Regions from separate parts of the Homo sapiens genome. Here region 1 is linked to region 2. Evidence: fine-mapped expression QTL. Tissue or cell type: blood mononuclear cells. Region 2 holds a variant in brackets; the other region holds the start of a gene. All regions are shown on one strand. Distances are between the middles of the regions.

The links. PIP is the estimated chance that this variant, and not a neighbour inherited with it, causes the effect.
Region 1: LINC01511 starts here. The variant in region 2 is fine-mapped to the expression of LINC01511 in blood mononuclear cells (TOPMed, PIP 0.99).

What each region holds. Positions count from the first base shown.
Region 1 is chr5:1,371,489-1,387,238 of GRCh38, reverse strand. LINC01511 (long intergenic non-protein coding RNA 1511) reads left to right here and starts at 7,166. Exons shown (of 2, transcript NR_125810.1): 1 at 7,166-7,677. RefSeq lists enhancers at 546-1,114, 1,171-1,465.
Region 2 is chr5:1,351,565-1,367,314 of GRCh38, reverse strand. LINC01511 (long intergenic non-protein coding RNA 1511) reads left to right here. Exons shown (of 2, transcript NR_125810.1): 2 at 2,624-3,733. Among named protein-coding and RNA genes, the nearest start is that of CLPTM1L, 14 kb to the right of the region's middle. RefSeq lists enhancers at 7,948-8,503, 8,504-9,059, 9,060-9,615. The variant C/T (reference allele first, on the strand shown) is at 8,087.

The sequences.
Region 1 (15,750 bases), 20 kb before region 2:
CAAGGGCGGTTCTGTGAGACCTGTGTCTCAGGTGTGTGTGTGAGAGAGAGGCAGGCAGACAGACAGACAGAAGGGCAAGGGCGGTTCTGTGAGACCTGTGTCTCAGATGTGTGTGGGAGAGAGGCAGGCAGACATTCAGACAGGGAGAGGAGGAGAGAGACAGAAAGAGACTCAGCAAAGCAGAGAGAACTTAGATCAGGGTCAAAGACTTCTGACGGCCCTCCCCTAGTCAGGGTGGTCGGCCATCCCGGTCTGCCCCGGACTGAGGGGTTTCCTGGATTCAGGATTTCTGGGGACCAGTGGTCGCCCCTGTCCTTAGTACTGGCCAGCCCTGCTCTGCTGAGTTGGGGAGAGCAGCCCCAGGCAAGGAGGTCTGAGGAAGGGGTATGGAGCGCGAGATGGGGGTGGCAGAGGGGAGATCACAGGAGAGCAGGTGGGGCAGGCTCAGACCAGCTCCCCATGTGTCGGGGTGCAGGAGGGGCAGCAGTGGCCGTGCACAGCGGGAGGGCGGTGTTTGGGGTGGACTGAAGGTGCCGAGCTCCAGCCCCGCTGTGTGGGACGCACTCAGCCTTTAAGGTGCTGCACCTGCACTTGCGCAGCAAGGAGCGAGCGTCACAGAAGCCAGTGCAGCCGGCCAGGGAGGACAGGGCAGAAAGCCACGAGGACAGGACCTGCGGGCAGCTGGCGGAGCCAGGCCAGACCAGACGCTGCCGGCTTTGAAGAGCGGCTCGGCCGCGGCCACGCGCGCCCGGCGTCAACGGGGCGTCTGACGTTTTCCTTTGTTTTCTTTTGTTCGAGAAGCCGGAAGTTTAGACTTTTACATTTGGGTAAAACGCTCCAGTGTTTGGGTGTCGGTGGCTGCGTCGCTGCGTCAGTCAGTCACTCGGTGGCAACAGCAGCAGCAGAGGCGCCCACCTGGCTGAGCAGAGAGACACGGTACTCACGGCGGGTGTGGGGGGCACAAGGCGCTCACAGAGGCCCCAGAGAACCGGCTCAGAGGCCAGCAGGGCAGAAGGGGGAGTCAGCCGGGTGAGCAGCTCTGCGCCCCGCCGGCCCCCACACCGACCACAGCAGAGGAGACCGGCGGCCTCACTCCCCGCGCCGGCCCCAGAGCCCCGCCCGTGCAGGTGCAGTAGGGCCCGGGGCACAGGCGCGGGGGAGCCGGCAGGGATGGCTGCGCCCAGCCAACGGCAGCAGGACCACGAACACCCCACTGCACCCCGTTCCATGAGGGCAGCTTCCTGTGAGCCAGACACGGCCCTGTCCAAGGGATCCTACCGCCCCGGCCCAGGCCACGCCCCAAGGAACGCCCTGTGGGTGGTGCTGAGCGGCACAGTCCCCAGGCCCCGCGGCCGGCCCTGCATTCGCTCTCTCGTGCCTTCCCTGGGGGAAACGCCCAGCCTGGCAGCACAGAACCTTTAGTTACACAGGCCTGAGTTTGAGGTCCGGGGAATGGGAAAGTGAAACGTGATCGCTGAACCTGCGTCTCCCATGTTCACACTATGTCCAGCAGTGAAAGTCCATCGAGCCTCCGACCCAAGCAACAGGCATTCTTCTACCCTTCCCCTGGCTGGCCTCCCTTCCCACCTCACAACGCTCACATGAATAAAGCGTGTCCCTCATGCCACTAGAAGAGCTCAGCCTGGGCCACAGCCCCCTCTTGGTGGCCCTGGAGAGGCCTCCTCTCCAAGAACACCAGCCCACCATGGTCCTCTGAGGACGCAGGGCCAGACACCAAGCGGGCAGGTGGCACGGAAAGAAAATATCGCAAGCTCTGTTCGCCTAAAAATATCGCTCTTCTAAGGTGAATGCAGAAGAATTTTCATGTATATGACTGACCTTCACAAATCCAGCCAGCATTAGCCCATCAAGCACTGAACACATTTATCTAGAATTTAAACAATTTTACTTATTCTGCAAGCTGAGATCCTCTTTACTTAAAACTGTTTGTCATATAGATGAAGGGACCCGTCAGACAGAACATTTTATTTGGTTAAAAATTGGATGGCATACATATTTACACAGTATTAGTGGGACAGAAATGACCGTTTTGAAGTATGCCCTCAGCCATGGCTGCTGGCCATGGGCTCCAGCCGGCCACGCCCTGCAGGTCCCCATCGTTAAGCTCATCCTGGTTCAGAATCAAAGGTTAATATTTAAGTGGCTTTTCAATTTGTGTATTCAAAGATAGTATTATGACCTGTAAGCTACAGAAACATTCTCATATCCTTTAAGCCTTGTTCACACAGAGAAACTGTATCTAAAATTCTAAAAAGTTCTATTAATCACAATGGTAATTTTTAAAGCTTAGAAAGAAGAGGAAAAGACATCACCTGTAGGTCTGTTACCCAGAAACGGCCAACACCCCACCGGTGCCCTGAGTTCATCCCGTGCCCATGCCGAGGCCTGGTTTGCTCCGGGTCCTGTCGCCAGGACACTGGACACTGCAGCTGGGCAGCTGCAGACCCTCCCTGTACTTTCTCCACCCAGGGTCGGGCATCGGGGTTGTGGAGGGACAGGCAGATGGGAGAGGGCAGGGGTGAGACTCAGGGCTGGGCCCTGGGTTAGAATCTCTGGCTCCCTCACTTTTTGGCAAGGGTCCAGGCACCTGTGCCTCAGTTTACTCATCTGTGCAGAGAGCAGTCATCGCGCCCAGCACAGAAGGCTGTTGAAAGGATTGGACAAGTTAAATGATGGAAATGGCTCAGATGTTTATGCACCAGTGCCACAGATGTCCCAGATCCATGTAACTATCAGTCTAATGCTACCGTTACCACTCTTAAAAGTATTTCAGATAATGAAATAAAACAGACTTTCCAGATTCTGACATGATGTAAAAAGGCATCCGTAGGGATCACTGACCTGAGGTTTCTGGAGATGAGCCTGGCCCTGCCATGACACAGGTGGGGTCATGATGCAGAGGACAGCCACCTGCAGCTGCCACCACCTGACAGGATACAGGACAGTCACCCCCACCTGTCACCACCACGGAGGACAGAGGGGACAGCCACCCCCACCTGTCACCACTTGAGAGGACACAGGACAGCCACCCCCACCTGTCACCACCTGACAGGACACAGAGGGCTTCTGGGAACCACTTGTGTTGTCTGTGTGTCCAAAGGGCGTGAAAGGACAGCCCAGTGACTGTTGCCTGCACAGAAATGATGCCCTTGAGACCGGAGGCCCAGGACACCTGCCCCTGATGGGCTCAGCGCTGATGGGCTCAGCGCTGATGGGCTCAGCGCTGGGCTTGAGAGCAGGAGTGTGTCCTGCTTCTGCATGTGTGTTCTGAGCAGAGTCCCTTTCCTGCGTGGCTGCCAGGACACTCAAAGCCACTGCTGAGCTCAGGTTCAGTGATGGAGTGGAGCTGTCGTTTCCTCCTGTGTGGTAGCCATACTCCCAAGGCCCCCCACCTCCTGTTGGTGACACCCTTGTTTGGTGTCCCGGCGATAACCATATTCTAACCCACAGAACACAGCAAAGTGGAGTGGAGGAATGTGATTGTGTTACACAGGATTGCAATGCCCATTTCTTTGGAACCTGGCCCTCCCCTGTGGCTTTGAGGAAGCACATGGCTGGGCCGGGGAGCCCCAGGTGACACGAACAGCAGGTGGCCTCTGGAAGCTCACGCAGCCTCTGACCAGCAAGGAAGTGAAGTCCCGAGTCCACAGCAGCAGGGCCCGGGATCCTGCCAATATCCCAAGGAGCAGAACCCAGGTGGACCCTGGCCCACGGGAGCCTTGAGTGAGACGGTAGCGGTCTGACGTCCGCGCTGCACTGGTGAGGCCTGAGCAGGGGACCCCGGAAACCCGGAGGGAGATGTGGACTCTGTTCAGCCGTTTGGCTCATGGCTGGCATTGCCATACGCGGGAGGCACTCGCTTCTCTGCCATTTTTATTTTGTATTTTCTTGTTAGCAGCCCTGGGAGGGGCCTGGCACAAAATATGCCTCAAACACTGTGGAGAGAATGAAGGAGGGTGAGCAGGGGGTTGGGGGGGGGTGCTCAGGAACCCCTGGGGAAATGAGGTGTGGTATGTAAAAGCAAACATTTATTATTTGTAATAAAAACATTCACTGTTTTCTGTGTGTGTTTATTTGTTTGTTTTGAGACAGAGTCTCACCCCATCGCCCAGGCTACAGTGCAATGTCGCCATCTTGGCTCACTACAACCTCCTGGGATCAAGCGATTCTCCTGCCTCAGCCTCCCGAGTAGCTGGGATTACAGGCGCCCGCCACCACACCCAGCTAATTTTTGTATTTTTATTTGTTTTTCTTTTTTGTTTTTGAGATGGAGTCTCACTCTGTTGCCCAAGCTGGAGTGCAGTGGCGCCATCTTGGCTCACCGCAACCTCCACCTCCCAGGTTCAAGCAATTCTTCTGCCTCAGCCTCCCGAGTAGCTTTGTATTTTTAATAGAGAGAGGGTTTCACCATGTTGGCCCGGCTGGTCTCAAACTCCTGACCTCAAGTGATCTGCCCGCCTCAGCCTCCCAAAGTGCTGGGATTACAGGTGAGCCACTGCGCCCAGCCAAGACTCACTATGACATGGAACTTCTTCCATTTGTTTTCGCGTTTTGGGCTCTGAAATACTTACTGGTAGTGCGTGATCACCGCAGTGCCTTCCCTAAACGGGGAGCCGTGCCCACGACACAGGTCCCCCAACACACCAATGTGCCCCCACCCCTCCAGCCTCAACAGGCTTTCCCAGGCCTCTGCATGACCGGGGTGCTGGAGGTACATCCTGGGAGGTCCTTACCCAGGGACTGAGGTGTGAACGCATGAAAACGCAGCCTCCCTGCCTTGCACGGGCAGCTCAGAGCCATAACTCGTCCCCCAGAGCACCTCTCGGCCCGTCGCCACCCACGGGGCACTTCCTGAGAGCAGAGCCTGCTCTGCCACCTCCCTCTGAGGCCTCCCTGCTACTGTCGGAGACCACCACCCTCCCAGGCCTCCCTGCTACTGTCGGAGACCACCACCCTCCCAGGCCTCCCTGCTACTGTCGGAGACCACCACCCTCCCAGGCCTCCCTGCTACTCTCGGAGACCACCATCCTCCCAGGCCTCCCGGCTACTCTTGGAGACCACCTCCCTCCGAGGCCTCCCTTCTACTCTCAGAGACCGCTTCCCTCATTAGCTCTGCGGAAGCAAGCCCTCTTCCCGGGACCACGGTGGCTGCAGTACGGGTAAGTGGGTGCCGCACTGGCTTTTTCTGGAACCACACGATCAAGAGGGTTTGGCTACCGAAATGCCTAGAAAGCTTCAGGACCAGGCGCTCTCCTGAAAAGCTATTTGGTCAAGTGAGTGGTTTAGGTGGGCATGCGTGTATATGTGGGCGTGTGTGGGTGTGTGTCCATGAAAGTGGCCATGTCTGTGTGCGTGTGTGCATGTAAGAGTGCCTGAGTGGGTGAGTGTTGACCATGTGCATACGTGGGTGTGTGCAGGTATGTACGGTGTGTGCACATGTGGGTGTGGGCATGCATGTGTATGGGTGTGTGCACAGGTGTGTGGGTGTGCGTGTGGGGGTGTGCATGCAGGTATGATGTGTGTGCACAGGTGAGTGTGCAAGCGTGTGCAGGTATGCATGGGTGTGAGGTGTGCACGTGTGTGTGGGTATGTGCCTGTGTGTGGATGTGCATGGGTGTGTGCCGGCATGCATGGGTGTGGGGTGTGCACAGACAGGTGTGTGCATGGGTGTGCATGTGTATGGGCACGTGCACGTGTGTGGGTGTCCATGTAGGGGTGAGCATGTGTGTATGGATGTACGTGTGCACAGGTGGGTGTGCAAGTGTGTGTGGGTGTGCACAGTGCAGGGGTGTGTGGGTGTAGGTGTGCACATGCCTGATGGTGGACAGGAACCTCAGGTTCCTTCCTACTGCTCTTTCTGGCCCCACTAGTGGATCCGGAGTAGAAACCAGCCAGAGAGAAGCGCACAGGGGAAGCACAGCCATCACTTAGCAAAATCACTTAGTGAAATCTGGGGGAAAATGAGAGTGGGCTGAAGGCAAAATCAGTGTGCTCTTTCAGCTGGAGAACATAGCAATCAGGGGAATAGGGGCATGGAACAGCCCAGAAACTGGATACACAGAGCTGCGCAGCCGTCATATGCCCCAGGAGGAGGAGGGCGGCGGGTGTGTTCACGCACCACGTGCAGCCCTGGCTGCTCTGCTGCTGGAGTCCATTCGGGCTGCTGTGACAACACGCCTAAGCCTGAGCCACTTGTCAACAACAGACATTTATTGCTCACAGTCCTGGAGGCTGCAAGTCCAAGACCAGGGTGCTGGCGGATGTGGCGTCCCATGAGGCAGCCCTCTGCTTCCAAGACGGCGCCTCTTGACAAGGCTCAGGGTGGACAGAGCGAGGGAGCTCCCTGGAGCCTCTTCTACCCGGGCCACTCATGCCATTCGTGAGAGCACAGCCCTCGTGATCTACTCACCTCCCAAAGGTCCCACCTGTTAACACCATCACATTGGGTATTAGGTTCCAACCTATCAATTTTGGGGGCCACTAACACTCAGGCTACAGAAACTACTAATGCATCTTGGGATATTGTGAAACTGAAAGGTGACAACGTGCCAGCAGCCCTCGCTGGCTCTCGGCGCTTCCTGGGCCTCCGTGTCGGCTCTGGCCGTGCTTGAGGAGCCCTTCGGCCTGCCGCTGCGCTGTGGGGCCCCTCTCTGGGGCTGGCCGAGGCTGGAGCCAGCTCCCTCTGCTGGCGGAGAGGCGCGGGCGGGAGCGGGGGCTGAGCGCAGCGCTCGCGGGCGGCGCGGGTTCCGGGTGGGTGCAGGCTTGGCTGGCCCGCCGACGCCTGCTGGGCTTGATCTGGGGATGAGCTCCCTCTGGGCTGCCGGAGTGCCCAGGGTAGATGCTGCAAAGTTCTAAAGGGAGTGCTACTGAGAGGTGAGGCCGGCTGGGCTTCTGGCTCCGGTGGTGACTTGGAGAACTTTTCTGTCTACCTAAAGGATTGTAAACACACCAATCAGCACTCTGTAGCCAGCTAAAGGTTTGTAAATGCACCAATGAGCACCCTGTCCAAATGGACCAATCAGCTCTCTGTAAAATGGACCAATCAGCTCTCTGTAAAATGGACCAATCAGTTCTCCGTAAAATGGACCAGTCAGCAGGATGTGGGTGGGGTCAGATAAGGGAATAAAAGCAGGCTGCGGGAGCCAGCGGTGGCAACCTGTTAGGGTCTGCTTTTGTCCTCTGGGAGCTTTCCTTGTTTGGTTTTCGTAGTAAATCTTACTGCTGCTCAGTGTTTGTGTCTGTGCTGCGTTTGTGAGCTGCAACGCTCACGGTAAAGGTCTACAGCTTCACTCCCGAAGCCAGCGAGACTGTAAATCCACTGGGAGGGGCAAAGAACTCTGGACGTGCTGCATTTTTAGGAGCTGTGACACTCACCGCGGAGGTTTGCAGTTTCACTCCTGAAATCAGTGTAGACCACGAACGCACCAGAAGGAACAAACTCCAGACACACCGTTTTTAGGTAACCGTAACATGTACCGCGAGGGTCTGCGGCTTCATTCTTGAAGACGAGACTAAGAACCCACCAACTTCTGGACACAAAACCACCCCAAAAAGTGAGTTTCTAAAGGAGAAGCTAAAAATAAAGACCACGAAAGTGTTGCCCATGGTGATAGCTCCAGACGTCCGGAGACGGTGTTCAGCGCTGCTGCAGGAGAGGTATGTGGGCAGAGTGGGGAACCGCATTCCTCCATGGAGGCTGCTCTGGAGGGCTGGTGCCTGCATCGGGGTTGCATTCAGCCCCTAACAAAGCTGTAGGCAGCCGCTCCGTGTGGTGCGGGGGAAGCCGGTGCAGGCATTACTCCTACAGCGTTCTGTGGTTTCTTCTCGGGAGTGATACAACCCACTGTCTCCACTGTAAGGTTTAGTTAATGCTGGGTGACAGTCTGATCTCACGTAGCCAGGTACAGATAAAGTACAACACACTCCTTAGTCTCCTTCCTTTCCTGTCCGCCAGGTGCCCACAGGGGGCCTGCACTTCAACTCCTGAGCAGCTGGGCTCCCACCCCTAGCCTGAGCCCTGCTGTTTCCTGCTCTCTGCCCTGTATCCTTGTCAGAGCCTCAGCTCTCTCCCTGTGCTGAGTTGGCGCAGGTGAGACGGAGGGACCAACGCCTGGCCCTTAACGTCAGTGCCTAGTGCACACTTACCCAGTGTGTGCGTGGCCTACCAGCGGTACCCAGCCATGGGGCGGCAGGAATCCCTCTCTGCCTGCAGTCCTGCCACCCTGGTCTTCTGCCTCCCCAGGGAGTTTCCACTTTGCGGAGAAGTGGGGGCCAGAGAGATGGGGGGAGTTAGTGGAGGGAACAGGGAGACAGACCCTTCCCTTCATGGTCCTCAAAGGTACAGGCGCTGGTGGGCTTACCTTATTATGGAGGCTGCAGCTTTTGTGTTCCTTCCAGGACCACAGAAATATACCACACACCCCCCAAAGTAAATAAGTGATTAAAATCAACCGGGATGGGGGCTTGAAGCCGAAATGGAATATAAGCAGTAACAGGTGAACCTCATCGAAGGGAGTGGGGAAAAGAAAACCTACCGCATGCTTTGGAAGACAGTATCATGGGCTGTAAGACAAAAAGAATGGCGTGCAGACACTGTGCCCTAGTTTGTGAAGCTGTTTTGCACAGCAACCTGGGTTAGCAATTATGAGATTACTTTGTGTGTGCTCCAGACTTGAGCAAGCAAGCATATTGTGGGTAATTAGAGCCGGATACATAATTTGCGGGACCTGGTGCGAAATGAGATTGCAGGGCCCTTGCTCAAAACTCATTAAGAACTTAAGGATGGCGACAGCAGAGCTTTAAACTCTGAGCAGGAGGCCCTGTCTGGCCGCTCAGGTCACCTTCCAGCGGCCGCGCTGTGGGTGACGAGCCTCGCTGCTGGAGAAGGGAGCTACCAGTAAGGAGCATGGGAGGCTGGGAGGGGAGGCGGCAGTAGGAGCTTGTAGTTTCAGCACGGAAGTGTCGGTAGACGGCTGGGTAGACGGGTGTGAGCCTGGCATGGGCCCGTGTGTTCTCACCGAGGCTTTAGCTGTGTCCACTGGGGGACCTCGGAGCAGGGACACCCTACAGCCATGGGCACCCCCAGAGCCGGATCTCGGGCACTAACATCTTTCTCCAGGTCAGGCACTGGGGCCCCCAGATAGCACTGAGGCAGGGAGGGTTCCCGGGTGAACATGGAGTGGTCCCACAAAGTAAGGTAGAGCGCCCAAAGGGCAGCGGGGGGGGGGTGGTCAGTAAGGCAGAGCGCTCAGAGGGCAGCGGGGGGGGCCAAAAGGATGCAGGACCAATCTACACGGCTCCAGAGCCAAACCTGGGATAATCGGAGCAAAACAATACATAAGTATACCAATGGGCCAGGTGCAGTGGCACGTGCCTGTGATCCCAGCACTTTGGGAGGCTGAGGCAGGTAGATGGCTTGAGTCCCGGAGTTCTAGACCAGCCTGGACACATGGTGTGAAACCTTGCCTCTACAGGAGATAAAAAATCAGCTAGGCATGGTGGTGCATGCCTGTGGTCCCAGCTACTCAGCAGGCTGAGGTGGGAGGATCATCTGAACCCAGGAGGCAGAGGTTGCAGTGAGCTGAGATCATGCTGCTGCACTCCAGTCTGGGTGACAGAGCGAGACCCTGTCTCAAAAAAGAAAATTATAGTAATAGTTCATAACTCATAAGGCTAAATGCCCACAAGTCCATACATAAATGCATAGATAAATAAGGGGGAAGAGGGTGAAATGCTCGTCTCCTCCGAATTGCAGTTAATGTAGAAGGAACGATGGTAACAGAGAATGGCCATTTGGCAAACAACACAGGAATCATCGAGGGATGTTGCGATTAGTAGGCAAAATTAGGATGAGAAATGGGATATTTCTTGGCCTCAAACTATCTCCCGACAAGATAATTAAAGGGAAAATGTAACTTTGTGGCAGAGAGCCCTGGCAGATACCCCTGCTCCCAGCAACCGAGCTTAACACGCCAGTAACAGGCCCAGATCATAGGTCTCCTGATGAGATGCCCTGAAGTCAGCCTGGCATAGCTTCTGTGGGTCCTGCCCAGAGGATATGTCCTAAATGCAGTCATGAGAAGCAGCTGTGTGCTGGGCAATGGCCCCACACTCCAAGCTGTCCCCACTGGGAGGCAGCCAGGGAGAATGACAACCAAATGCAATGTGTGGTCCTGGACTGGGCTGTGGGCCAGAAAGACACTGGGATGGGGCCTGTAGATAGTTAATAGTATTGCATTTCAAATAATTTTTTAAAAACAGTATTGCGTTGGTGTTAATTTCCTAATTTTGAACATTGCACCATGGTTCTATGTGAGATAACTTCTAGGGAAACTACTTACAGGATATGCTGGAATTCTTTGCACTGTTTTTGTTTTTTGGTAACTTTTTTCATGACTGAAATCATTTCAAAGTGACTATTTAGAAATTAAAAATGAAAACAAGATGATCTTTTATCCTCAGAGAATATCCTTCTAAGTATAAACAGTGTGAGTGCTGTGCTCACAAGTCACCTGAAGGCTGGGCGCGGTGACTCACGCTTGTAATCCCAGCACTTCGGGAGGCCAAGGCGGGCGGGTCACCTGAGGTCAGGAGTTGAAGACCAGCCTGACCAACGTGGTGAAACCCCATCTCTACTAAAAATGCAGAAATTATTCCAGCATGGTATCCCAGCTACTCAGGAGGCTGAAACAGAATTGCTGGAACCCGGGAGGTGGAGGTTGCAGTGAGCCGAGACCACGTCACTGCACTCCAGCCTGGGCAACAGAGCGAGACACTTTTTTTGTTTTGTTTTGAGACAGTTACTTGAAATAATTTCACTTGTGTGGTTGCATCACCAGCACTGTGATACGTAGTTGTCCTGTGGCAAACGGTGCCCTCCAAACACATGTCCGCCCACAACTTCAGAATGTGAACTTGTTTGGAAACAGGCTCTTTGCAGATGCAATGAGTTAAAGTGAAGTCATTCTGGATTAGGGCGGGCCCTAAATCCTGTAGCTGATGTCTTATGAGAAGACATCAGACAGACCAGCACAGAGGAAGAGCCCCACGCTGAGAGGGAGCAGACTGGAGGGATGCAGCCAACAGCCAGGGCACACCCAGGGCCACCAGCAGCCACTGTGTGGGAGAAGGGGGTGGAAGGAGCCCACTCTGCCTGCACGTCACTGTCACACTGTGGCCTCTGAGACGGCAGGTGCCTGTTGTCCTGAGCCATGTGGTGTGCAGCACCTTGTTATGGCAGCCACAGGAGACCAACATCACCATCCAGCTCACGTCTCCACTTTAGAGTTCACCTTCTTCCTTTCGATGGCGAGGACGGCATTCTGCAGACGTGGAAGACTTACACCCTCGGAAGCCAAAACCACAAAGCAGGATTCCTTCGGAGAGGTCTAGCTGCTGTACAGATAACTGCTTTATTAGATTTTACGTTCCTTCCCACCCAACCTTCATTTCCCCCATGATCAGACCAACGGTAAGGCAGCCTCACCCTTTCTGCCCCTTTGTCCTTTAATGCAGGAAAGATGAACCCTAAAATTGGGGTTTTGCCGGGAGGGTTCTTGACTTCACCCAGGAAAGAGTTTGAGGGCAAGCTGGAGGTGTTAGCTGCTCCTTGTGGAGCGGGGTTGACTCACAGGCAGTGTGCCCAGAGTCCACAGTGTATGGGCTGTTGGCAACTGTATTTATACCCACTTCTTTTACATGCAGATTAAGTAGAGATCAATGCAAATTGAGGGGTGGGTTATTTAGAATTGTCTAGAAAAGAAGTGACAACTTCTGGGTCGTTGCAATGAAAAAAGGTGGTAACTTCCAGGTCATTGCCATGGCATTTGCAAACCATCATGGCCCTGGTGGGAGGGTCTTATGCCAATGAGCAATGATGGCAGCCAGGGATCACCCTCCTCGCCGTCCCCTGATTCCTGTCTCCACTTCATCCCATCCAGCCCAGATCCTGTTTTGGTCAGTGGGTCAGTGACCAGAAAACAAGTCCTGCCACCTTCCTACCTCATCCCCTCTCTTCAGAGATGAGATCCTTCCCCTTAATCTTAAGGGGGTGCAGAAGGGCAGGGTCTGTCTTCTGGGATTGCTTCCTGCTGTGTTCATGGGCATAGGTCCTGTGTAAGGTTAGAGGAGGGAAAATCTCTGATCTAAGGGCCCCAGAGGCCAGACACTTTCATTCTCCAGGTCAGAGGATAGGATGGGTTGAAGCCTGTACCAGTGTTGTCTTTGTGTGGAATTGTTGCAATCTACAGGACTCGAGCTTTGCTAGGAACCAAAAGTTAGTAATGATAAGATAGTTATTAAAGGTCCTGGGAAAGGTCCTTTGCCTTTCCTACAGCCCACATGGTTGCCAACAGCCCATATGCCGTGGACTCTGGGCACACTGCCTGTGAGTCAGCCCGGCTCCACAGGGAGCAACTAACACCGCCAGCTTGCCCTGTAACTCGTTCCTGGGTGAAGCCAAGAACCCTCCTGGCTAAACCCCAATTTTAGGGCTCATCTTTCCTGCATCAAAGGAAGATGAGGCTGCTTTACCGTTGGTCTGATCATGGGGGAAATGAAGGTTGGGTGGGAAGAAACCCAAAATCCAATAAGGGAGCCAAAAGTTAGTAATGATGAGATGTCATTAAAGGCCCTGAGAAAGGTCAAAACCAGGCAAGAAGAATCGGTATGGCTGATGACTGCACGTGCTCCTCGCCATGTGATTTGTGTATTTGCAAAACAACAGCTTTACACCTTCCAGGGGCTCACAGGTGAAGGGCATGCTGTCCTCCCCTCATGCCTGCAGGGACGCAGAAGACGCAGGTTTAACCCTGGACAGGTGTACCCAGCGAGTGACTTCCTGCAGTTTAACAGCAGTGGGACACAACAGCTGAACCTCTGGGACACCAACCCAAGCAGTTTTTGTTTGTTTTGTGGGACAGGGTTTCGCACTCTCGCCCAGGCTGGAGTGCAGTGGTGTGATCACAGCTCACTGCAGCCTTGACTTCCTGGTCTCAAGTGATCTTCTCACCTCAGCCTCCCAAGTGGCTGGGACTGCAGATGTGCGCCACACCCACACTACATTTTTTTTAAAAAGTGGTGTGTGGTGTTTTTTTTTGTTGTTTTTTTTTTGTAGAGATGGGTTTTTGCCATGTTGCCCAGGCTGGTTGTGAACTCCTAGGCTCAAGTGATCCACCTGCCTTGGCCTCCCAAAGTGCTGGGATTACAGGCGTGAGCCACCGCACTCAGCCCAAAGAAGTTTTAGAAGAAGCTGGTTATAGCATTAAAAGCAAAAATTCTCATAACTTAATAAATCAATACCTTAAGAAAACCCAGTTCCAATACATAGATCATTCCCTAGAAAGTCTACCACAAACCATTTTTCTTTAATCAGCAGGGTGCAGTGGCTCATGCCTGTAATCCTAGCACTTTTAGGAGGCCAAGGCGGGCAGATCACAAGGCCAGGAGTTCGAGACCAGCCTGGCCAATATGGTGCAACCCTGTCTCCACTAAAAATACAAAAATTAGCCAGGCGTGGTGGTGGGCACCTGTAGTCCCAGCTACTCAGGAGGCTGAGGCAGGAGAATCACTTGAACCCGGGAGGCAGAGGTTGCAGTGAGCCTAGATCATGCCACTGCACTGCAGCCTGGGTGACAGAGTGAGACTCTGTCTCCAAAAAAAAAAAAAAAAATTTCTTTAATCACAGCAGGCTTAATTGCACACAAAACTACTCTCAGAAGTTCCCCTTCACAAACCCCATTACAACCCACACAGACCACCCATGACATGCCTGGACTCTCTGACCTGTCCTACACCTCCCTCACAACCAGTCTCTTTATTCTGGGACCAGAGATCCTTTCTCATACAAAGTCAGTCTTTCTTGGCCGGGCGCAGTGGCTCACGCCTGTAATCCCAACACTTTGGGAGGCCGGGGTGGGTGGATCACCTGAGGTCAGGAGTTTGAGACCAGCCTGGCCAACATGGTGAAACCCCGTCTCCACTAAAAATACAAAAATTGGCCAGGCATGGTGGCGGGCACCTGTAAGTCAGTCTTCATACCCCTCCTGAAAAAAAAAATGTATGTATGTATAACTCCCCACTTCTCTCTTTTCTACTCGTACTGGTTCCCTCATATTTTGAGCCCCTCATTTAATACTTTCTGGACAAAAGTTATTCTTTTCCCAATAATGTATCTTCCCTAGCACATTTTATATACAGGTAGGAAGCAAGAAATCTTCAACTGCCCAACAGACATTAGCATCCTGTAGATGAGAAGCATTCTACAGTTTCAAGATTTTTAAGCCATACAAAACTCACTACCTAAAGCCATTTTAACCATTCCAAAACCTATGAACATCTGGTTTACCTAGGTAAAAATTAAATTTTAGAAGACACAACATTCCCTTCAAACTAACATGTTTAGACTTATTTGTTTAATTTATGAGCACTCTTATTTATAAGCCAATGTGATAGCATGCTAGTCACAACACATATCATGCAAATGAAGTGACCTGTACAAGACAGCTGGACCCAAATTATTTATAAAATTGGGACCTGTTTACCTGACCAAATTTTATTTGCCCTGATAAGTATGAAAGACAAGGGGAAGTGGAGAAAGATTCTGTAGGAAAGGGGGGTGGTGGTGAATTATATGGCTCAGTGTGAAACCTTGCAGTCCCTGAGCCACCAGAGAGCTCACCCAGCAGCGGAGACACCAAAGAAAAATGTTGAAGTGGCCACTTGTCAGCCTGCAGGAAGCCATCCACCAGGCCAAGGGTCTGAGGCCCCCAGTACACTTACTTGAGCAGAACACCTCATTGGGGTCAGGAGATAGAGACCATCCTTGCTAATATGGTGAAACCCTGTCTCTACTAAAAATACAAAATATTAGCCAGGCGTGGTGGCGCACACCTGTAGTCCCAGCTACTTGGAAGGCTGAGGCAGGAGAATCGCTTGAACCCAGGAGATGGAGGTTGCAGCGAGCCAAGATTGCACCACTGCACTCCAGCCTGGGTGATGGAGCGAGACAATCTCAAAAAACAAAAAACACCTCATTGGGACTAGCAGAAGGTTAACTCTAGTATTGACAGGCAGCTTTTATCTTTCTCACCAGGGAGGGTTAGGACATTCTCATTGCCAATGGCCCTTTTGCTTATGGTAGGCACACTGATTCTGACCCAGGGGCCAGCAAGTCAAGAGCTCTTGTCTGGGCATGTCAGATGCCAATCTTAAAACACACTCTCAGGATGGGTAAGGCTGAGGGGCAAGGCACTGACAGCAACTGTTAGCAATTGTACATTTTGGCTATTTATCTTGCTTTTAATTCTACCTCTTGCCCTGTTCGTATTGTTGCAAACTTTAAAGGGCATGTTTAGGAGTTGGCTCATAGGGGTTTCAGGTCCCGTTTCTGCTTTCTGTAGCTTCCTCTTCATGTCGGAGGCAGGTTCAGGGATAAAATGTATACCCAGGAGACCTTGCCCTTCTGGGGAGTTGGGGCCTGCGTCAATACGTTTCCCGAGTACCTCAACCAAACTACCTTGAAACAGTGTGATTTTCATCCTTCCATGAGTTATTTCTCTAACCTTGTCATAACTGACTGGCTTAATCTCACACGTCTCCCTCTGCCTCTCCCTCATGTCACAGCAAGTGAGCAACAATGCTTGTAAGTCATGACAAGTGAAAGAGCATGGTAGACTTGATTCTTCCATAAAACCCCGGATTATCTGAAAACCGGCCACGTGCCTCCTTGCA
Region 2 (15,750 bases):
GACAAATATCTAACGGCACGTGTCTACAATTATAGCATCACATAGAGGAGTTTCACTGCCCTAAAAATCCTCTATGCTCCTCTTGTTCAACCTTCCCTCCCCCCAGCCTCTGACAACCACTGATCTATTTAACATCTCCATGGTTTTGCCGTTTCCCAAATGTCCTAGAGTTGGAACCCCACAGGGTGTAGCCTTTTCACATTGGCCACTTTCACTCAGTGATAAGTATTTAAGTTCTTTCCCTGCCTTTTCATAGTTTGGGAGCTCATTTCCTTTTAGTGCTGAGTCCACTGTCTGGATGTGCCACAGCTTGCTTACCCATTCACCTACTGAAGGGCATCTCGGTTGCTTCCAGGTTTTGAAACTTATGAATAAAACTGCTATAAACACCCATGTACAGGTTTTGTGCGGACAGAAGTTTTCAGTCCCTTTGGGTGTATACCGAGGAATATGATTACTGGACCGTACGGTGAGATCATGTCTAGTTTTGTGAGAAACTGCCAAACTGTCTTCCACAGCGGCGGCCCCATTTTGCATTCCCACCAGCGATGAACAAGAGTTCCTGCTGTTCCGCATCCTTGTCAGCATTTGATGTTGCCAGTCCCTGGGTTTTGGCCATGCTAGTAGGTGTGTGTGGTGTCTCAGTGTTGGTGTAATTTGCATTTCTCCGATGATGCGTGACGCTGAACATTCTCACACACGTATTGCCATGTGCAGAACTTCTTCGGTGAGATTTACGTTCCAGTATTTTGCTCACTTTTAAAATCTATTGTCCATTTGTTATTGTTGAGTTTTAAGAGTTTTTTGCATATTTTCAGTACTGTCCTCTATCAGATAAGTCTTTTGCAAGTATTTTCTCCCAGTCTGTGGCTTGTCTTCTCTTGACAGAGTCTCTTGCAGAGCAGAAGTTTCTCACATTAATGAAGTCCAACTTATCCATTATTTCTCTCATGGATCATGCCTTTTAGATCCAACAGGCATGTTGAATGTTGAATCTAAAACGTCATCTCATGCCCAAGGCCATCTGGGTTTTATTCTATGTTATCTTCTAGGAGCGTTATAGTTTTGTGTTTTACATTGAGGTCTGATCCATTTTGAGTTCGTTTTTGTGAAGGGTGGGAAGTCTGTGTCTGGATTTGCTTTCCTGCACATGGGTGTCCTGTTGTCCCAGCACCATTTGTTGAAAAGACTCTTTGTCCCATGGAATTGGCTTTGCTCCTCTGACTGCATCCACATGGGTCTGTTTCTGGGTTCTGCACTCTGCCCCCTTACCCGCCCCCTACCCACCCCCCGCTTATCCGCCCCACCTGCCCCCTTATCCGCCCCCTACCCGCCCCCTTATCCACCCCCTACCTGCCCCCTCCTCCATCTTTCATTCACCACCCTGCTTTGATTAGTGCAGCTTCATCAGGAGCCTAGGAGCCGGGCAGCATGAGTCCCGTGACTTTGTTCTTCAATTTTGTGTTGGTTGTGCTGGGTCTTTCCTCTCTCTATGTAAACTTCAGAATCATTTCTCAATAGCCACAAAATAACTTGCTAGGATTTTGATTGAGTATACACACACACACACACACACACGCGCGCACACACACACACACATATTTGAGATGCTCCTGGAGTGCAGTGATGCGATCTCGGCTTACTGCAACCTCCACCTCCCGGATTCATGCAATTCTCCTGCCTCAGCCTCGCTAGTAGCTGGGGTTACAGGCGTGTGCCACCAGGCCTGGCTAATTTTTGTATTTTTAGTAGAGATACGGTTTCACAATGTTGGCCAGGCTGGTCTCAATCTGCTGACCTCAGGTGATCCTCCTGCCCCGGCCTCCCAAAATGCTGGGATTATAGGTGTGAGCCACCGTGCCAGACCTGAGTATACATTATTTTAAGTGATAAATTTTGGCAATCTTGTATTTGTTCTTCTAAATTATAAGATATGGTTAGAAAGCCTTTTCCTCTCCTGTGACATCCTGCAGCTGTGTTTTCAGCCAGACCTTACTTCCTTCTCGCATGAAGATCTCTGGTCTTTGGGGATTATTCTGGTGTGGAAAATAAGCTAAAGGTTAAGTTGTATCTTTTAGTTTTCTTTTATTTTTTTTCGAGATAGTCTTGCTCTGTCACTCAGGCTGGAGTGCAGTGGCACGATCTCAGCTCACTGCAACCTCCGCTTCCCAGGTTCAAGCAATTCTCCTGCCTCAGCCTCCCAAGTAGCTAGGATTGCAGGCACCCGCCACCACACCCGGCTAATTTTTGTATTTTTAGTAGAAATGGGGTTTCACTGTGTTGGCCAGGATGGTCTCAAACTCCTGGCCTCGTGATCTGCCCACCTCAGCTCCCAAAGTGCTGGGATTACAGGCATGAGCCACCACGCCTGGCCACTTTTGTATTTTTAGTAGATGTATGGGTTTCGCCACATTGACCAGGCTGGTCTCGAATTCTTGACCTCGTGATCTGCCCTCCTCGGCCTCCCAAAGTGCTGGGATTACAGGTGTGAGCCACTGTGCCTGGCCAGTTGTATCATTTTCTATGTGGCTATCCAACTGTCCCAAAAACTTATTGTCAAAAGTCCGTCTTTTTCCACCTCATTGTATACCTAATCTCTACATATATTTGGTTCTATTTGTAGACTTTATCTTCTATTCCGTTGGTCTGCCTATCTAGAAAGCAAAATTTCAAATACTGAGACCGATAGATGAAGATGCTTTCGCTTCTTCCCTGTTTCATCCAGTTGGGGACTAAGTGTCCTTCGGTTTGGACTGTGCAGCTCGGGTCACCTTCTCTGTGGAACAGCAAGTGAAGAAAGAGGCGCAGAGCCCTGTGTTCCAAACCCTGGAGACAATTGAGAAAGTGGGAACCCATTATTCCCCAAGCCCAGCCAGCAAACCTCACCGATGAAACAGATAAGCACTTCCTGCAGGTGGGGCCGACACTGGCCAGGACACAGCCCTCTCTCTCACAGCAGTGTTCCAGGTTGTTTGTGCACAAAATTTCACAAAGGTCAGAGCTCGTCTCTCCAAACCGATGAGCTTTGCGGTTAACCTGAATTCACTGAACTGGGATTTATTATTATTATTCTATTTTACCTCTAACAGAAGTTTAAGGTTCGTGTAAGTTTCGTTCCTCTCTGATTGTAGGGGAGACGCCCAGAGCGCCATTTGGAGGAGAGAACCTGGCATCCTTTCCTTACCTTGATTTCAGGTACCCAGCTCCTAGCAAATGTGTCTTCCTCCCAGGGTTCTTTGGGGTAAAGAATTTGGTGAGAAGGAGCTGAATGTTATGGCTGCGTTTCTCAGCCACTTGCTCGGAGCCAAGCATCCTCTCACCCTTTCTTTCAACTGGTAGCCAGAAAATACGGGTTGAGCATCAGGGATTCTCAACCGTGTCAAGCTCCAGCCCTGCCTGTTGTGACAGACGTTTCCTGATGCCTGTTGCTCTCTGGAATGAAGGTCATGGGCAGTATTACCCACACAGCCATTCAAAATCAGTCGGCTTCGTGACCTGTTGTGAAAGGATGGCGATTGCCGTGCCAGCACGTGACATGGACTCGGATGCCTGCGCACACAGGTGCACCTTCCAGAAGGTGAGGTCAGCCCGAGCGCCCACCGCCATGTGAGTGCGCTGCTGCAGTGACCAGTTGCTGGAATGTTCTGAACAGAGCCCAGTGCCACCCACTTTGATGTGCGCTATTGTTAGATCTCCGGAAAAATCAGAGTGCATTAAATTCCTGCAAAAATTCTGTGTGTCTGTCTCTACGTAAATGAGCTAGGGCTTTGCTCAGCCTCCTCCCTGCATCTGGCAAGAGGAGAAGCAACTTTTAATTCATGTACTTGAGGGCAGCCAGCACCCAGCACCACACCACAGCAGCCCCTGGGGAGGGCAGCACCCAACACAGCACAACCCTAATTCGTGTACTTCAGGGTAGGCAGCACCCAACACACCACAGCCCTTCCCAGCCAGCGGGACAACCACCGAGAGCCCCGAGAACTCCCACAGCAGCCCCAGGGAGGGCAGTGCAGGGCCGTGCATGCAGGGAGGAGGGAAGAACCAGGAGCAGCCCAGGCTGCCTGGACCCCAGCAGATGAGTCCACTGGTCCACAGAGCGCTCACTGCATGGCCCAAACTGCTGCTTTTTTTTTCTTTTGAGACAGAGTCTTGCTCTGTCGCCCAGGCTGGAGTGCAGTGGCGTGATCTCGGCTCACTTGCAACCTCCACCTCCACAGTTCCAGTGACTCTCCTGCCTCAGCCTTCCGAGTAGCTGGGACTACAGGCACCCGCCACCATGCCTGGCTAATTTTTGTATTTTTAGTAGAGACAGGGTTTCCCCCGTGTTGACCAGGCTGGTCTCAAACTCCTGACTTCAGGTGATTCGCCCTCCTCAGCCTCCCGAAGTGCTGGGATTACAGGTGTGAGCCACTGCGCCTGGCCAAACTGCTTCTTTTACTTTCATTTCCCTATGGAGAGCCAACGCCAGTCACTTTCCGTGGAAACCTGATTTTGGCTCTTGTTGCTGAACTAGAAAGAGGATGGCCGTGTGGACTCCTCCGGAGCTTTCTCAGCCTCGCTCACATTACCCTCCTCACCATAAGGACTAGAATTATTGCAAAAGCTGGAGCCACGCACTTAAGAATAGGGAATGAAAACTCGCTTTTTTTGTGGATAAAGGAAAGCTGTTCCTCGATTCACGACACGGCTGACAACAAGCGTGTGGGTTTTGCACACCAGCCAATTCTCCGGGTCTCTGCAGACACCACCCGAGTGTCCTGCAATTTAATTCAGCTCCAACACTGCCCGGCGCTAGCGCAGATCCGGAAGGTTGAAAGCTTTGCCCGTGAGGCTGCCCCCACTCAGCCAGTCACAAGCATCGTGTCCCCAGGCCACCCACATGTCTGTCCAACGTGGCTGCAAATGGGCCCACCATCCCCTCCTTAAATTCAGTAATTTGCTGGGATGGCTCGTGGAAGTCAGGGAAACACTTTGCTTACCGTTACTGCTTTCTTGGAGAAGATATTGTGAAGAATACGCAGGAACATCCAGATGTGGAGGTGCCTGGGGCGAGGGCTGGTGGGGTCCCGGGCACAGGACATTCCATTGTCCCCATGGACTTGGGGTGTGCCCCCTCCCACACGCGGACGTGTTCACCAACTCTGAAGCTCTCCAAATCCCATGGGCGAGGGTTTCTGATGGAGGTGTCATGTGGACACAATTGGTGACATCACTGGTGATTTTTCGTTGGCCTCCATCTCCAACCCCTGGCCCCAGAGATTGAGAAATGGGGCTGAAAGTTTCAGCCTTCAATCACACGGCTGGTTCCCCTAGCAACCAGCACCACCCTCAAGCTATCTAGGGGCCTACCAAGAGTCCCCTCATAGCATAAGCTCAGGAGAGGTTGAAAGGGGCTTGTTATGAATTCTCACCTCCTACCATGCAGGACATTCCAAGAAGCACTGTGTCAGGAACTGGGGACAAAATAGAATAAATATATATATATTTTTTGAGACGGGGTGTTGCTCTGTTGCACAGGCTGGAGTGCAATGGTGCGATCTCAGCTCACTACAACTTCTGCCGCCCAGGTTCAAGCAATTCTCCTGCTTCAGCTTTCGGAGTAGTTGGGATTACAGGCGCGTGCCACCATGCTCAGCTGATTTTATTATTTTTTAGTAGAGACGGGGTATCACCATGTTGGCCAGGCTGGTCTCAAACTCCTGGCCTCAAGTGATCCACCCATCTCGGCCTCCCAAAGTGCTGGGATTACAGGCGTGAGCCACTAGGCTAATCCTGAATGTACATTTTCTACTGTCACAGCAGATATTCCCAGCATCCCCCTCCAACTTCCCACCCCTGAACCCAGCCCCACCATGAGTCCCAGCCTGCAGAAGACCCCACACCAGCCTCAGTCCCAACCCAAGACAGCCTCCAGCCCCTGAGTGTCCCCTCCAGTGTGCCCCCTGGAACCCGCAGACCTGCCCTCCACCCCAGCCCTGTGTCCTCTCCAGCTTTCTCTTCTCTGACAGGGCGACCCACCAGCAGCCACACCCCGAGGCTTTTTTCTTAAAAAACCCCACCCCCCAATGAGCCCACTGCACATCTCATTGATGCTGACAGCTACCTGCATCGTCCACGCCACAGCCCACTCCTCCTGTGGCTTAGCACCTGCATTGGACACCATTAACCACACCCTCCTCCTGCCCTCTGCCCTCAAAACCCCTAGGGCTCCCCAGCTTCTGGTCCCCCAATCCCTGCGTGTGGATGTCTGGGACACTCAGTAGCCTGGGTGCCCCTGGGACCTTGGAGAGTGCAAAGGTAGCTGGGGCTGTGCTCCACCCGGCCAGAAGAGTCAGGGTGTCCCCAGGACCATGAGGGGCCCCTGCAGGGACCCCTTGGCCACCATCTCACCCCATCTGTCCAAAGCTGGTACCTTTGGAAAACTCACACCCCTCATGCTCTGAAGCAGGAGCTGGGTGTTCACTGGAGGGACCCCGCCGGGAATCCTTTGAGTGACCAGGGCCTGAGAAAGGAGGAGCCTCAGGCTGTGATCACCCCGAGAGCCACTGTCAGGGCCCGTGTGGACCAGCAGCCACATGAGGGTGAGACCCCAGAAGAAGGGTCCCTCCATCTGGCCCACTCAGGGCACTGTGCAAAGTGAAAATGTGGAGTGCCTCATTAAAAAGCAGGGGAAAGTGCTGTGCAAGGTAGTAAAATATACAACTTCTTCTTTTTTATCAGAGTCTTGCTCTGTCGCCCAGGCTGGACTGCAATGTCACCATCTCAGCTCACCGCAACTTCTCCCTCCTGGGTTCAAGCGATTCTCCTGCCTCAGCCTCCCAGGTAGCTGGGACTACAGGCATGAGCCACCAAGCCCAGCTAATTTTAGTATTTTTAGTAGAAACGGGGTTTCGCCATGTTGGCCAGGCTGGTCTTGAACTCCTGACCTCAGGTGATCTGCCCGCCTTGGCCTCTCAAAGTGCTGGGATTACAGGCATGAGCCACCGTGCCCGGCCTAGCTTTTTCTTTTTCCACAGTTTCTCAACTTATTTTTTAGTTGCTATTTTATGTCATTCTAAGTAAAGAAATTCTGAAAATTAGAATCATTAGCATGGATCTGCCATTCATATATTGTCTAGTTTTATTTTTTTTACTTTAAATTTTATAAGAAATGAGTTTTAAGAAATGATGAATATAAGATAAATCAAAACCACAGTGAGTTATTAAACCCATTTTCTGTATTCAAACACTAAAATTCCGAAGGTGGAATATCATCCAGTGTGAGACATCATAGCCCGGCCCGTATGTACGCAGCACACAGAGCTGTGCCCGCGCTCATCTGTGAATTGCTCATTTACATGTCACTGATACAAAACCTGCAAGGGAACTTCTCAGTTCTCCTCTTCCCAATACATCGTCACCTATTTTTAAGGAACTTCAGGGATATGAAGAAAATACATTGAAGTGGGCTTCTGCTAAGGGCTCTCCGTGTTTTGCTCTGACGGATTACACACTACATCTTGAGAAAAACTTGCAGCTCATTTCCAGCTAAGACGGCAGAAAACTCTAGATTTTTGCCAATGTGACATTGTCCGGTTTTAAATGCAAAAAAGAAAGCATGGAACTCATCCGGAAGGTGAAATCTCAGTTTCTGTTTCACAGTTCGCACATGCACCTGTCCTCAGGGACCCCCAGAAAGGAGGAGAGGTCCCACAAAACCAGCACAGTGGCTGCTTTTATGCCACCTCCCAGTCACCACGTTCCATCAGCACCGCACCTTCCACAGGACCGCCTGAGGAGGAAGGACGGGGGCCCGGTCGCTGGCGTTTCCTCCCACTGGAAGCTGCTCGGCTTGAAGGGAAGGCGAGGCTGGGGCTGCAGCTCCTCACCCCGTCCTGGCTGCGACCAGCCCTGTGGTCGCCGTGAGCCTTGCTTATGTGCTCTGTTCAGGTTCTGAGCGGCGATGGGCTCGGAGGGCGCCCGTGGCTTGCTCTTGCAGGGGCTCCATGCCCATCCTATCTTGCTTGAAAAACATAAGCTTAGTGATAAAATTGGTAAGAATTTCAAGACGGCGACCCTGGAGCCGTGAACCCGAAGTGACCCTTAC[C/T]CTCCCCAGGCACAGCGGGGCACCCGGGGGCAGGCAGGGTGGTCCTGGAGGCCATTCTGGGAGGGGCCAGTGCCTCGGCCTTGATGCCCATGCTATCCCCTCTCCACGCGTCCTCACCTATCCCCGAGAGCTGAGCGACCGCCAGGAGCCAGCCTGCACCCCTGCCACAAGGCCTGGCCCTGCTCCTGGCACTGCGGGCTGGAGTTGCCCATGGGGCTGCTCAGTGCACAGCTCCTGCACCACGCGGGCATGGGTCCTCGTCCCCATGGGAGGGCGGTGCTGATGCCCAGTTCATGCCCCGGCCTGTGCAGATGCAGGGCACAGCCCAGCTCCTGCATGGGGTGCTGGGTCCCCTACGTGTGACCCCGTGGTTGGGGGCTTGCAGCCCTTCCTGCCACCTGCTGGCCTCTCCACGGCCACGTGCTTCCTTCCCACTCCCTGGGTGGCACAGGTGTGGCGTGGCCTGTGTCCTCCAATGTCAGGGGGCACATGCACAGCCCCCAAGGGTGGCTCCCAGCCTTGCTCTCCCACCCTCTTCCCCCTCAGGTGGGGCTGGGAGTCTCAGGACAACAACATCTCCTCCCCATGGCCCTCCTCGTCGGCACCACCGGGCCCTTGCACACACTTGCCAGGGTGGGCCGAGCAGGCAGTTCAGTGGGTGGTCCTGAGCCCTGGCCCCAGCCCAGGCATCTGGCAAAACCCTTCCTGGCCTCGGCTCCTCATCTGTGCAGTGGGCATGACCATCGCTCCACCTCGGGCAGTCGTGGGCATGGAACTGAGTTAATCCACCAGCGGGGCTCAGGATGGCACCCACTTAGGTCCATTGGTTTCTTTTACATCATCTGACGCCGTCTCTTGTCAAGCGCTTGGGCCACATCTCTGTGACATGGGGCTTCCTGCCACTGGCATGCACCTAGGAGCACTTCAGGCCCTGTCTGCACCCGCACCCCATGTCCCAGGAGCCCAGGGTCCCCCAGTAGCCTGGTCCGCTTGGCCCACAGGGGAGCTGCCTTGCTCTGGGAGGGCTCTGTGTCCCGCTTTGTAATCGTACATCACAGCTGTCACCATTGCAGTGGTCAAGGGGGCAGTGACAGCAACAGTCAGGCCAGGGGCTGAACTCCGGGCACCCGTCGGCACAGAGCGAGGGGAAGCTGGATGAAGCAGCGGGCGCGGCCGTGGGGAACCGACTTCTTCTGCCAGGAAAAGGGCTATTTCCATAAGCTGCTGGCTGTCAAAAGGCATTTAGCTCCCCCTGTGTTCCAGAGAACATAATCTATTATTTGTTCAAAAGTAGGTTTCCTGAGGTAACTACAAAACCCCCAATATTGATGCTAAGTCACATGGAGAGCTGTGGGAGGCTGGCCTGGCTTTTTGTAAGATAATAGCAGGGCTTGTGTGCTCTCTGCTGAAACCTGCCATCCCATCCATTTCCTCCTGGGAAACTGGGCCATCGATGAGGGTGACAGCCCTGCCAGCCAGCGACATCCTCCTATGCTCAGTGCCCAGGCAGCACGGTCAAAGGATGAAAATATGAGTGCTGGAGAGCCCTCTCCTCCCCGCAGTGCCTGCCACCCATCCCTTCCTCCTTCAGACACTGGCCCCCAGTAAGGACAAGAGCAGCACGATGCCCCTCCCTACAGCCATGCCCAGGTGGGGACCCCGTGGGCGGAGTCCAAGTCCTCCCTCTTCCCGCCTCCCTCCGATCACTTCCGGCCCTCATTACCCCCTTGACCCTCATTCCCATGAAGCTCACAAGGGCAGAGCCTGTGCTGACCCTTGGGGAAGACTCGAAGTGAGATTGGAGGGCTGTGGAGGACAATGGGCTGTGATGGGTGGGACTGTGCCTGCCTCCAAGTTTAAATGTTCAAGTCCTGACCCCCAGGACCTCAGAATGTGACGGTATTTGGAGATGGGGTCTTTACAGAAAGGATTTCAGTTAAATGAGATCAAGAGGGTGGGCCCGTTGTGACTGGTGTCCTTGTAAGAACAGGAGATCAGGAGGCGGACACGCAGAGAGGGGCGACCCGGTGAGGACTCAGGGAGAAGACGGTGTCTGGAAGCCAAGGAGAGGCCTCAGGAGGAAGTAGCCCTGCCACACCTGGATCTGGGACCGCCAGCCTCATGGACTGTACTTTGAGCAATAAATGTCCTGTCTAAGCCCCAGCCTGCGGTCGTCAGAGGCGCTGGAACCAGAGCGACTCCACCTCGAGTGAGGGCTGGAAAACGAGGCTAGGACTTGCTAGGCTCCACTCCCAGAGAGTCGGGCATTCCCAGCCTCTAGACGTTTAGAGATAAAGGAACAAATAAATAATGTTTACTAAACAGACCCAGACTTGGGAGTCCAGATACCCCGATATCCAGAGAACAAAGGCATTCCTAATTTTGCCTTAAAGATAAATGATATTGATTCTTGCAAAATATACTAATTAAGAAAATTAATTCTTTATCATCAACGCTCGTAGCAGAGCACATCTCCCCGTATACACCAGGATTGTACCCCAGGTGGGCGCCTTTCTCCTCTTAGTTTCGGGAATGCCCTGCTCTGTCTGTGGAGCAGCCGTCCTTTCGCCACTTTACTCTCTTAATAAACTCACTTCCACATGGGACTGCGGACTCCCCCTGAATTCTATCTTGTGCGAGATCCAAGAACCCTCTCTTGGGTTCTGGATCAGGACCGCTTTGCTGTAACACGGTGCTGCTCCGTGGCCACGTGAGCCGACGGATGCAGAGACCGACGGCGGGCTCTTCGTTACCCTGGCCCGCCCAGGCTCCCACGGCCCCCAGCCCTTCTGTTCTCGTGCTCTGATGGTGGCGCCGTGTGGCCTGCCCTGCGCGCTAGGCACTGCTCAGCTGCTCTGTGGGTGGGTCGTGGGCACTTGCTGACACTCTACAGGGAGGGGCCTTCCTGGAGTCATGAGACAGGACACTGAGAGCAGCCGCCTTGTCTGGAGACTGAGTCCCGTGTCAGGGACAAGCAGTGACTGCCTCCCTGACCTCTGCTTCCTCCACGCTGGCAACAAAGGCGGGAAGCAGGAGGCCGGCCTGACACCAAGAAGCAGATGGCAGGGGCCATGTTTCATCCCAATGCCCAGGAGCTGTTCCTGCGAATTCTGCTTGTACGTAGGTGATGCCCAAACTGCATTGTCCACACTTCCCCAAGCCTACAAATTCACTTCGTAGGATTTTATTTTTACTGAATGAATCCTACAGGGCTTGTCTCCCAAGTGCTGAGATGAACAGATGGTGGTTGCTGTCATCCCTGGAGCTCACACATCCCCCAAGGGCACCACAGCTCCTGCTGTAAATAAGCCCGTTGTTTTCTTTTTTCTTTTTTTTTTTGAGATGGAGTCTCTCTCTCTCTTGCCCAGGCTGGAGTGCAGTGGCACGATCTCGGCTCACTGCAACTTCCACATTCCAGGTTCAGGCAATTCTCCTGCCTCAGTCTCCTGAGTAGCTGGGATTACAGGCGCCTACCATCACGCCCGGCTAATTTTTTGTATTTTTAGTAGAGACGGGGTTTCACCATGCTGGCCAGGCTGGTCTTGAACTCCTGACCTCAGGTGTTACACCCGCCTTGGCCTCCTAAAGTGCTGGGATTACAGGTATGAGCCACCACACCAAGCCAAGCCTGTTAGTTTTCATGATCCGAGAATTAGAAATGAAAACACTGAGTTACAACATCTCTCCTAACAGGTTGGCAAAACTCCACAAGGTCACCAGCACACCTTGATGGGGAGGCTGCAGGGAAACACACAACCTCATGCTTTGCTGCTGGGATGCAAACAGCACAGCCCCTGCGGGAAGAAGCTCAGAGATGCCCGGAAAGACCTGTGTGCATTCACAACTGCATCCTTCAATTCCACTTCTAAGCAGCTACCTTAAAGTCACAAAATATCAGAAAATGGATGTTCAAGGTCATTCAACGTAACCCTGCTTTTAATACCTACAGACTTTTTTTTTAACCAAAGGATATATCCTGGCAAAATATATTATGTATATATATAACTAAATGGAACCTCTGAGATGAAAAATACCTTTGAAATGAAAAATTCATAATATGAGCTTAGCAGCAGTTTGAAAACTGCAGAAAAATACCAGTGAACTTGAATACAAGCATTAGAAAGTATTCAAACCTAAGCACGGAGACGGGAGAAAAGTTTCAACATAAACAGAACCTCACTGACATTGAAACAGCATCAAGCAGCTCATATACATATAACTGGAGTCCCAAAAGGAAGAGGCAGGCAGAGAAATATTTGAAGAAACCTTCACTGCAACATTTTCAGACTTGAATCTCACAGATTGATAAGCTCAGTAAGCCCCAAGCAGGACAGACAAGGCAAAAGCGCCAGACAAATACACACAAAACACAAAGAAACACAGAAGAACAGCTGCCAATCTGTCATCAGAAGCAATGCAAGTCAGAAGACAGTGGACTGAACGATGTGATTTAACATGACAGAAGAAAAAGTGCCCATCAACCTAGAGAATTAGTGAAAATATCTTTCAAAAAACGAGGGCAAATTAAGGATATTTCCATACAAATGACAATTGGTAGAATCCATTTTCAGTAGATCTGCATAACACAAAATGCTAAAGGAAGTTATTGAGGCTAAAGGGTATATATCAGCTGTATTTCACGTGACAGTGAAATGTATGACAATAAAGAAAGGAATAGAACAGAAATGGAACGTTACTGTTTAAAGTCATTAAAATCCACATGAAGGGTTATAATATCTGGAAGTAGACTAGCTTAAGTTTAAGCTGCAAATTGACAATTGTAGAAAAAAACACTGAACAAGTAAAGCAAAAAGATCTAGCTGAAAAGCCAATAAGAAGACATATTTGAATCCAAAAAAGATAAATTTATAATTCTAAAAGCAGGAAGAAAAAAGAGGAAAAAGAACAAAGAATGAATAGGACAAATAAGAAAACATTGATAATTAAATTTAAATGATGTAACACTCTAATTAAATGGCAGAGATTGTTGATTGAAATACAGAACTAACTCTAAGCCGCCTACAAGAAACCCGTTTTAAATATAAATACACAGATAGGTTAAGGCCAAGCATGGTGGCTCATGCCTGTAATCTCAGCACTTTGGGAGGCTGAGGTGGGAGGATTGCTTGAGTCCAGGAGTTCAAGACCAGCCTGGGAAACAGGGTGGAACTCCATCTCTATAAGAAATACAAATATTGCCTGGGTGTGGTGGTGAACCCCTGTGGTCCCAGCTACTTGGGAGGCTGAGGTGGGAGGATTGCTTGAGCCTGGGAGGGTGACGCTGCAGTGAGCCAAGATGGCACCACTGCACTCCAGTCCAGCCTGGGTGATAGAGCAAAACCCTGTCTCAAAATTTTACTTAAAAAAAAGAAAATAGGCTGGGCGTGGTGGCTCACACCTATAATCCCAGCACTTTGGGAGGCCAAGGCAGGTGGATCACCTGAGGTCAGGAGTTCGAGACCACCCTGGCCAACATGGTGAAAACCTGACTTTACTAAAACTACAAAATTAGCTGGGCATGGTGGCAGGTGCCTATAATCCCAGCTACTCGGGAGGCTGAGGCAGGAGAATCACTTGAACCTAAGAGGCACAGGTTGCAGTGAGAGTTAGATAGTGCCATTGCACTCCAGCCTGGGTGACAAGAGCAAAACTCCATCTCAAAAAAAAATGTGTAGATAGACAGATAGATACATATGTATATTTAAAACACAGGTAGGTTAAAAGTTAAAGGAGAGAAAAGGGCATGCCAGGGAAGCGCTGTCAAAAGAAAGCTGAAGTAGTTATGTTGACACGACACAAAGCAGATGTCAGAACAAAGAACATCACCAGGGATAAACAAAGACAACAGGGTCAAGACATCAAGAGGACACAATGACCCCAAATGAGTATGCTCCTACTAACAGAAATTCAAAACACATACAGCAAAATTCAAAAACTCTTATCACTGAAACATGATTACGTTGGGTGTAGTAAAAATGTTCAACTTTTCTCTTTGAAAGTCACCAGAAGGAGAGTGGTGTTGGCAACAGGGCTGACTAGAACTGTCTGGCGCTCATCCCCTCCTCCCCACAAAGAAGGATCAAGGCAACAAGTTGACAGTGACAATTTGACTGGAGCGTCGAAGGCAGAGTGCTGGACTGCAGCAGAGGCCGGAGACACCCCTGTGGTGCTCGGAAGCCCAGGTGGCGTCTGCTGCCCAGTCTTCCTCACCCACCAGTTTGACCTAGAAGCAAAGAGGGACTTCCAGTGGCAAGGAAAAGGTAAGCAGATCTCCACCAGCTGCCACTGCTACAGCAAATGCTGGCAGTCCTTGCTGCAGGAGAACCCACAGTCCTTGCAAGCCCTGAGCCCAGTTGGGAGCACTGCAGGGAATTCTCACAGCAGTGTTCCCCCGATTAGGAGCAAAAGGTGTGCACCTCCCACCCCACACCCATGCCATGAGCCAAGCTGCTATTGCATCTGGAGGGGCTCTGCCCTGGGGCCAGTAGCACCTGCACCTCTCCAGCACTGGGGCTCCACTTTCATGCCACCAAGCCCACATGGGCAGCTGAACACCACAACCCCAGCTGCATAGAGCTTGGGCCCAGGCTTAGCTGTGACTCTGGTCCTGCACAGCAGGGAAACCCATCCCCACCGCAGCTCTTCCAGCTGTCTGCTCCTCCCACCTGCAGCAAACCCACCCTTGAGCCAAACAGCTGCAGGTCTCCCCACATAGGCCCCACCAGCCTCCAAGCAACTGACAGCAGGAGCTCAGGGCCTGAAAATCAGCCCCACGGCACCCCCACCTGCAGGTACGCCCCTGGCCTGCCCAATGGCTCTGTGCCTCCAATAAGGGCCTAAGAAAAAGTCCCACAGGCTGCCCCTGGCAATATACAAAAATCAGTAGCATTTCTATACACAAACAAAAACCTAGCTGAAAAAGAGATCAAGAAGGCAATCCTATTTCCAATAGCAACAAATAATATAAAATACCTAGGGATAAATTTAACAAAAGAGGTGAAAGACCTCTACAAGGAAAACTACAAAAAACTGACGCAAGAAACTGAAGAGGATATGAACAAATGAGAAGACATCTCATGCTCAAGGATTGGAAGAACTAATATTGTTAAAACGACTGTGCTACCCAAGGTAATCTACACATTTAAGGCAATGCCTATCAAAATACCAATGGCATTCTTTTTAGAAAAAGAAATAATATTAAAATTTGTATGGAACCACAAAAGACCCCAAACAGCCAAAGCCATCCTGAACAAAAAGAACAAAGCTGGAGGCATCACACTCCCAGACTCAAAATACACTACAAAGCTACAGTAACCAAAACAGCATGGAACTGGCATAAAAACAGACACACAGACCAATGGAACAGAACAGAGGGCCCAGAAATTAATCCGCTTTCTACAGCCGACTGATTTCCAACAAAGGTGCTAAGCACACTCACTGTGGAAAGGACAGATTCTTCAATAAATGGTGCTGGGCAGTGGCTTACACCTATTACAGCTACTTGAGAGGTGGGAGGATTGCTTGTGCCCAGGAGTTCAAGACCAGCCTGGGCAACACAGCAAGACCCCGTCTCTACAAAAAGTTTAAAAATTAGCCAAGTGTAGTGGTGTGTGCCTGTAGTTTCAGTTACTTGGGAGGCTGAGGTGGGAGGATTGCCCGAGCTC